Homo sapiens: one gene and its partner. The protein of the gene in region 2 purifies or fractionates together with the protein of the main gene of each other region. This does not show direct contact. Each region holds a gene or a part of one and is shown on either strand. Other genes may lie near its edges.

What was found.
Region 1: the proteins of C2orf76 (region 2) and RBP7 fractionate together in Homo sapiens (co-fractionation; one large-scale study listed by BioGRID). This does not show direct contact.

What each region holds. Positions count from the first base shown.
Region 1 is NC_000001.11:9,996,075-10,000,027, forward strand, and holds the start of RBP7 (retinoid-binding protein 7), read left to right. Parts: upstream 1-1,153; 5' UTR 1,154-1,184; coding exon 1,185-1,257; intron 1,258-1,607; coding exon of another isoform or gene 1,608-1,956; exon of another isoform or gene 1,957-2,015; intron 2,016-3,953. Other genes in the region: translation initiation factor IF-2-like, read right to left, coding at 645-778, 1,608-1,956. UniProt on the Homo sapiens protein: Intracellular transport of retinol.
Region 2 is NC_000002.12:119,335,835-119,339,334, forward strand, and holds part of C2orf76 (UPF0538 protein C2orf76), read right to left. Parts: intron 1-3,500.

The DNA.
Region 1 (3,953 bases), on a different chromosome or scaffold from region 2:
GCCAAGGCGGGCGGATCACAAGGTCATGAGATCGAGACCATCCTGGCTAACACGGTGAAACCCCGTCTCTAATAAAAATATAAAAAGTTAGCCGGGCGTGTTGGCGGGCGCCTGTAGTCCCAGCTACTCGGGAGGCTGAGGCAGGAGAATGGCGTGAACCCCGGAGGCGGAGCTTGCAGTGAGCCGAGATCTCTCCACTGCACTCCAGCCTGGGCACAGAGCGAGACTCCGTCTCAAAAAAAAAAAAAAAAAGAAAAAAGAAAGAGTGAGACTCTGTCTCAAAAGAAAAAAAATAAAAATAAAATCAATAAGTCAGTCTTGGAGCCAGCATATCTAGGCGGTGTTTGTGGCTAATGTTGTAGGTTAGCCCATATTCCCACCCCTTCTCCTTTGCTTTTCTCTGCTCTGAGGCTAAATGCTGCAGACTAGAATCCCCAGGCCCCCTTGCAGTTAGAAGTGGCATTGATACAGTTTTGGCTAATGAAATGTACACAGAAACCTGCTGGGTAATTTCTTTTCTTTTTTCCAACTATCCAGACTTATAGGAGATGGGGAGGTTTGTGCTGCAGGGATACTGACCTTTGGTGCTTTCCCTCTTCCCTACCTTGAATGTGGATGTCCTGGCTGGGAACCCAGCTGCCAGCTCATGACCAGGAGGTAACAAGCAGGAATAAAAGGCCACCAGAGTCACAGAGACGAAGCTGCGGCGTTACCGAGGTGCGAATCACTGTGATTCCTAGGTGCGAATCATCACCAGCAATCACTTCTCTCAGGACTCCTTGTTAAGAAAAATAAACTCCTATTTATTGAGACCATGAGAGTTACGTTGAGAGGTATATTGTTATTGAAGCTGACAATATTCAATGCCATGAGTTTGAAGATCATCCCTGGGTCATTAACATATAAGCAGGGAAGAAAATGTGGCCCGAAACAGTCTGGGACATGAGAAAGCAGTAGGAGAGGAAGCCCCAAGGAAAGGGGGAAGCTGCCGCGCGGTGGGCAGAGCCAGGAGCACCGGGCTGAGGCGGCCGGGAGCGCAGCGGCTTCTAGGGGTGAGTGGGACCCACGCGGCCCCACCTGCTCCTCCCGCGCGCGGCCCCACCCCCCTGCCCCGCCCCGCCTGGTTTATAGGTCCCGGCCCGAGCCTCCGGCCGCCCGCCGGGTTTGTCCCGCGATCCCCGACCATGCCCGCCGACCTCAGCGGTACTTGGACCCTGCTCAGCAGCGACAACTTCGAGGGCTACATGCTGGCCCTAGGTAAGGCGGAGGGGAGGCGGCGGCGGCGCGAGGCTCGCCGTGGGTCTCGGGATCAGGCGAAGGCGGCCGGGCCGGGCCTGTAGGTACGTCCTCTGTCCGTGCCTCCGCCCTGCTGCGCCCACCGTCGCCCAGTCGCCCCCGAGTCCGCTGGTCCTTGGCGCCTCCGTCCATCGGGCGCGGGACCCCAGTCCTTCAGTCCCCCAGTCCGTCCTTTCCCGCGCCCACCCGCCCCCCTGTCCCCACGGCCGTCTCTCCACGCCCTCTGTTCCCCCGGCCGTCGGTCCCCCACCCGTCCGTCCCTGAGTGCCCGCGTCCAGCCCCACGTCCGTCTCTACCCGCACGCGGCACACCTGCGGAGACTGCAGACTCGGGGTCCGGCCGGGGAGGGGGGTCCGGCCGGGGAGGGGGCGCCCGGGACCGAAGCCTCTGCCCGGCCACCCTCCCCGCAGCCGCCTTCCGTGCAGGCCCCGGGGCCCCGGGCGCGCTCCCGCAGCGAAGTCCCAGCAGCCTCGGCGCACCCGGAGCGGGTCGGGGATGCAGAATCCTGGAGCCAGCGGACGACCCTTCAGGTCCGGGCACCCGCGGGAGTGCAGAGCCTGGTTCGGCCCGGGGCGTGCCCCGACCGCCGCCTCCCACGAGGGCTGGGTGCCCGCGGCGTTCTTGCTCCCGGGGGCCCCGCGCTGTGCTTCCCGCCCTCATCGCGGTGCCAACGGTGCGCGGACTCTCAACTCACTGCAACCTCCGCCTCCTCGGTTCAAGCGATTCTCCTGCCACAGCCTTCCAAGTAGCTGGGATTACACGCGTGCGCCAGCCACCACGTCCGGCTAATTTTGTACTTTTAGTAGAGAAGGGGTTTCACTATATTGGTCAGGCTGGTGTCCAACTCCTGACCTCAGGTGATCCACCCGCCTTGGCCTCCCAAAGTGCTGGGATTACAGGTGTGAGCCACGCGCCCTGCCACGAGTGTAGTTTTTCTTGTAGCTTTAGGAATCTGGGAAGTTGCCGTGCCGGCCAATCCCTGAACCCTTGACCCGTGGGCAATTTTTGTTTTCTTTTTTTCTTTCTTTCTTTCTTTCTTTTTTTTTTTTTTTTTTGAGACGGAGTCTCGCTCTGTTGCCCAGGCTGGAGTGCAGTAGTACGATCTCGGCTCACTGCAAGCTCCGCCTACCGGGTTCACGCCATTTTCCTGCCTCAGCCTCTCCGAGTAGCTGGGACTATAGGCGCCCGCCACCACGCCCAGCTAATTTTTGTATTTTTTAGTAGAAACGGGGTTTCACCATGTTGGCCAGGCTGGTCTCGAACATCTGCCCTCGTGATCTGCCCACCTTGGCCTCCCAAAGTGCTGGGATTACAGGCGTGAGGCACCGCACCGGCCAATTTTTGTTTTCTTAACCTTAGGGCCCATCTTAGTTGATAAAGGGGCATTTATTTTGCTCTTTCATATCCCAAGAGATAAGAGTGTTCCTCTGGGTATGGGAAAAGCACCTCTCACTTGAGAGTCTTATGATCTTCTTCAGAGGAAGAGCAGAGAATTCTTTTATGGCCTGCTTCAGGGAAGAGGGGCAAAAGAAGGTCTGAGGGGGACCTTCCTGCTACTGTTATTTCCTCAAATGCCAAGTGATATGGTTTGGCTGTGTCCCCACCCAAATCTCATGGGAGTTGTAGTTCCCATAATTCTCATGTGTTGTGGGAGGGACCTGAGGAGAGGTAATTGAATCATGGGGTAGTTTTCCCCACACTGTTCTGGTGGTAGTGAATGTCTCATGAGATTTGATGGTTTTACAAGGGGTTTCCCCTTTCATTTGGCTCTCATTCTCTCTTGCCTGCCACCATGTAAGACGTGCCTTTTGCCTTCTGCCATGATTTTGAGGCTTCCCCAGCCACGTGGAACTGCGGCAGTTAAACCTCTTTTTCTTTATAAGTTACCCACTCTTGCCAGGCTCGGTGGCTCACGCCTGTAATCCCAGCACTTTGGGAGGCTGAGGCGGGTGGATCAACTGAGGTCAGGAGTTCAAGACCAGCCTGGCCAACATGGTGAAACCCCGTCTCAACTAAAAATACCAAAAAGAAATTAGCTGGGCATGGTGGCGGGCGCCTGTAATCCCAGCTACTTTGGGAGGCTGAGGCAGGAGAATCACTTGAACCTAGGAGGCAGAGGTTGCAGTGAGCTGAGATGGTGCCATTGCACTCCAGCCTGGGCAACAAGAGTGAAACTCTGTCTAAAATAATAATAATAATAAGTTACCCACTCTTGGATATGTCTTTATCAGCAGCGTGAAAATGGACATAAGGTGCCATGTTCTGAGGTCGCCTATCCAGAAACCCTTAAATCCAGAACGGTTTTCTGAAAACCAGCAACTGTGTTTCAACTTCAGATCTAATTTGTTAAAGTACTAAGTACTTACATCAATTTGTTAAAGTGCTAAGTACTTAGGTCACACTTATAGCACTAGAGTGGTTGTTTACATAATACTGTAATACTCTTTTTTTTTTTTTTTTTTTTTTAGATGGAGTCTGGCTCTATTGCCTAGGCTGGAGTGCAGTGGCGCGATCTCGGTGTGAGCCACTGTGCCCAGCCATAATACTATAATACATTTTATCTTAAGAATTAAGTTGGTCTGGGTGCAGTGGCTCACACCTGTAATCCCAGCACTTTGGGATGCTGAGGCAGGTGGATCATGAGGTCAGGAGTTCAA
Region 2 (3,500 bases):
GTCTAACCATGAGAAAAACATCAGACTGAACTGGAAGGTTGGACAGAGCTTCCACAGTGTTCTTTTTCATAGTTGGGATGACTTTACATTTGGAAACCAGATCTAAAGTATTAGTAAGAATCGAAATGCTTGCAAATTAAGAATAATTAAAATAATTTTATGTTATCTAGATAATTGGTTTGTCTAGTATTCTGAATCTAAAAAATACAGTCATCTATAGATGGTAATATATTATGATACCTCTATGATCATAATATTTGATTAATATCCATTTCCCAGGCCAGGTACAGTGACTCACACCTGTAATCCCAGCACTTTGGGAGGCTGAGGCAGGCGGATCTCTTGAGATCAGAAGTTTGAGACCAGCCTACCAACATGGTGAAACCCCATCTCTACTAAAAATATAAAATTAGCCAGGCATAGTGGCGCACACCTGTAATCCCAGCTACTCAGGAGGCTGAGGCAGGAGAATCGCTTCAATTCAGGAGCCAGAGGTTGTTAGCCGAGACCACGCCACTGCACTCCAGTCTGGGCAACAGAGCGAGACTCTGTCTCAAAATAAATAAATAAATTTATCATACATCAGAAATAGGTTTATTATATTTATATGTAAATATATACATTTATATTTATTATATTTATATGACTTAAGGTTTTGATGACGTGATGATGCTCTAGGGCTGTGATTCTCAATGGGGAATGAATAAAATTTAACCAAAACTTTTTGGCTGAGGAGAAAATACAAACAATTATGGCAGGTAACTAGGTTAACCTGTGGATGGCAAAACATGACTACGAAAGAAAAGAACATTTAGAAAGCCTTGGGGAGGGAGGAGGATCGAAAAATAAAATTTAATTTAAAAAGAAAGAAAGAAAGGCAATAAAGTGTGTAAAATAACTCCAAGAGATCTTTCTTCACAATGCCCATTTCTGTATCTGTACAAAATTCCCTATGCCACTATGTCAGACAATCTCTTTAGCACTCAGCACTCAAAATGCTAGAGCAAGATGAACTAAATTCAAAGACCCTTTTGACACGGAGTCCATCCATTTATTTCAGAGATCCCACTCAAGCAAGTGAGGCAGTAGAGAAGAATAAAGAAGCAATTTAGTGCAGTGTTTAGTAAGAGTACATGTTTGACACTTAACATGCCTGGGTTGATTTGCAGCTTTGCCTTTTATTACCCATGCAACATCAGGAAAGTTTCATTTATTTATTTATTTATTTATTTATTTTTTGAGACACAGGCTTGCTCTGTGGTCCAGACTAGAGTGCAGTAGTGCAATCAAAGCTCACTGCAGCCTCAACTTCATGGGCTCAAGCGATCTTCCCACCTCAGCCTCCTGAGTGCTGGCACTACAGATGTATGCCACCATGCCCAGCTAGTTTTTTGGGGTTTTGTTTTGTTTTTTTTTTGGAGAGACAGGGTCTTGCTATGTTGCCCTGGCTGGTCTCAAGCTCCTGGGCTCAAGTGATCCTCCCGCCTTAGCCTCCCAAATTGCTGGGATTACAGATGTGAGCCACTGCAGGTGGCCAGGCAAGCTTCTTAACCCCTCTGTTCCTTAGTTTCTTCACCTGTAAAATGGTTCCAACTTTAGAGGGATGCTGTGAGGATGAAATGAGATAATCTAGGTAAAATTCTTAGTATAGTACCTGATACAGAGTAATGTTTGCTATCATTATTATTATTACATATTTCAAAAATCCCTCACTATCAAACTGTTTGGTCTTTGTTATGTACACAATTCATAAAAGGCAAATCTGTGGCCCACCAACCTTTCAGAGTTCCATAGTACCTCAAATCAGATGACAAAGATAGGCTTGGACACAGAGCCCACAACTCAGAAAAGTCTGTACCCCAAAAGTTCACCTTTTAGTCAGTGGAACACATTTCCCTAAGTGCACAATTGAAACAAGCAGTGGCTGTTATTCCCACTGCAGATGAAAGGTGTGAGTAGGTGGGTCTGAGCATCTCACTGTGACCAGTACCACTGCTCTGCTGGGGAAGGTATCTGTGGTACCTGGAAAGAAAAGAACACCGTGACCCTGGAAAAAAGACATCTTCCCCTGCCATTGCAGCAGCTTGAAAATACATCTTATTCTCAAGGACTTCAAGAACCTAGTCTGTACTGTACAAAGAACATCATAGCACTTGCTGTGTCAACATTAAGAAACACTGTAATCCACAATACACACAAAGATTATAAAATAAAAAAGTACGGATTTGTTTCTATTTCAAACTCTGACTATGCTTTGGGTAATGACCTTTCAAAAGCAGGACACTTTCTAATTGACACTGTCAGAGACCAGGAAGTGCCCCCCAAAATATGCCTCTTTAGCTAAGGATTTTTTTTGAGCTAAAGGCAATTAAGCAGCAGCAGATGGAGGAAAGCTCTCGGCCCTCCGTTTGCCTAAAATCAGGACATATAATAGATTTACAAAGAGAAAAGGTATCCTGCCCACCTCTCTCCCAAGGAAAACAAAGGTTAATCACTGAAGACAACTTTAGACCCCTATCAGTCTGGAGACAGCACAAGAGAATCCACATTAACGAGCTTTACTAACTAGCCTTAGTATTCAGTTTCCCACAAGTTGTCACCCTGAGAGATTTAGAGTTCATTTCCTTTGTCTTGTCACTTCTCTAAAATTTTACTGTTCTTTGTTGAGGATGCTACCTAATCTGGGGGAGTGAGGAGAATGAGAGAGAAAGGGGAAGAGGAGAGAGGGGAGAGAGTGAGGAATTGTTTCAAGGTGAGCAGGTCTATGTGAACCTGCCCCAGAAAGTCCGAGGAAACTGAGAGGCTGAAGAAAGAGGCTGACATATTCAGTTTCTTAGAAAGACATATTTAATAGGAACTTACAAACAGAAGCCATGTCTGTGTCTCAGGCTTTGGCAGGACAAGACAAGGGATCCACGCACCACTACCCCCCAGACCCAGGGCTTATATCATAGGGAAAGGGTGATCTGAAGGGATGTGTAGGGCAAGCAAAGTACAATAACATCAAGGTTGCTTGACCTAAGGTCAGGATTTATAGTAAGTACCTGTTCTTACATAGGGAATAGTAGATAACCTGGAAATCTTAGAGGTATCTTGAAACTGGGGCTAATGAGAAGTCAATATGGCAGATCAGTATCCAAGATGGAGTTGCTTTGGCCTCCGCAGGAATAAAACAAACATAGCAAAATGTTAACACAAGGAATCTGTGTGAAGAACATCCAGGAATTCTTTGTCTTGTTCTTGCAACTTGTCTATGAGTTTGAAATCATGTCAAAGTAAAAAAATTACATTGGATATAAAGCAATACCTTTGTCAAAAGCAATGGAACTATACAAGAAATCTGCAGATTGCACCATATGTAAATAACACTTCAATTAAAGTAATGAAACCTTATTTTAGATGTTTTCTCAAAGTTCGATGATTGGAACACTTCAATAATTAAAAATGGAGAAGAGAAACCCATTGAGGACATAACAGAATGAAGACTAACTTCATGCATA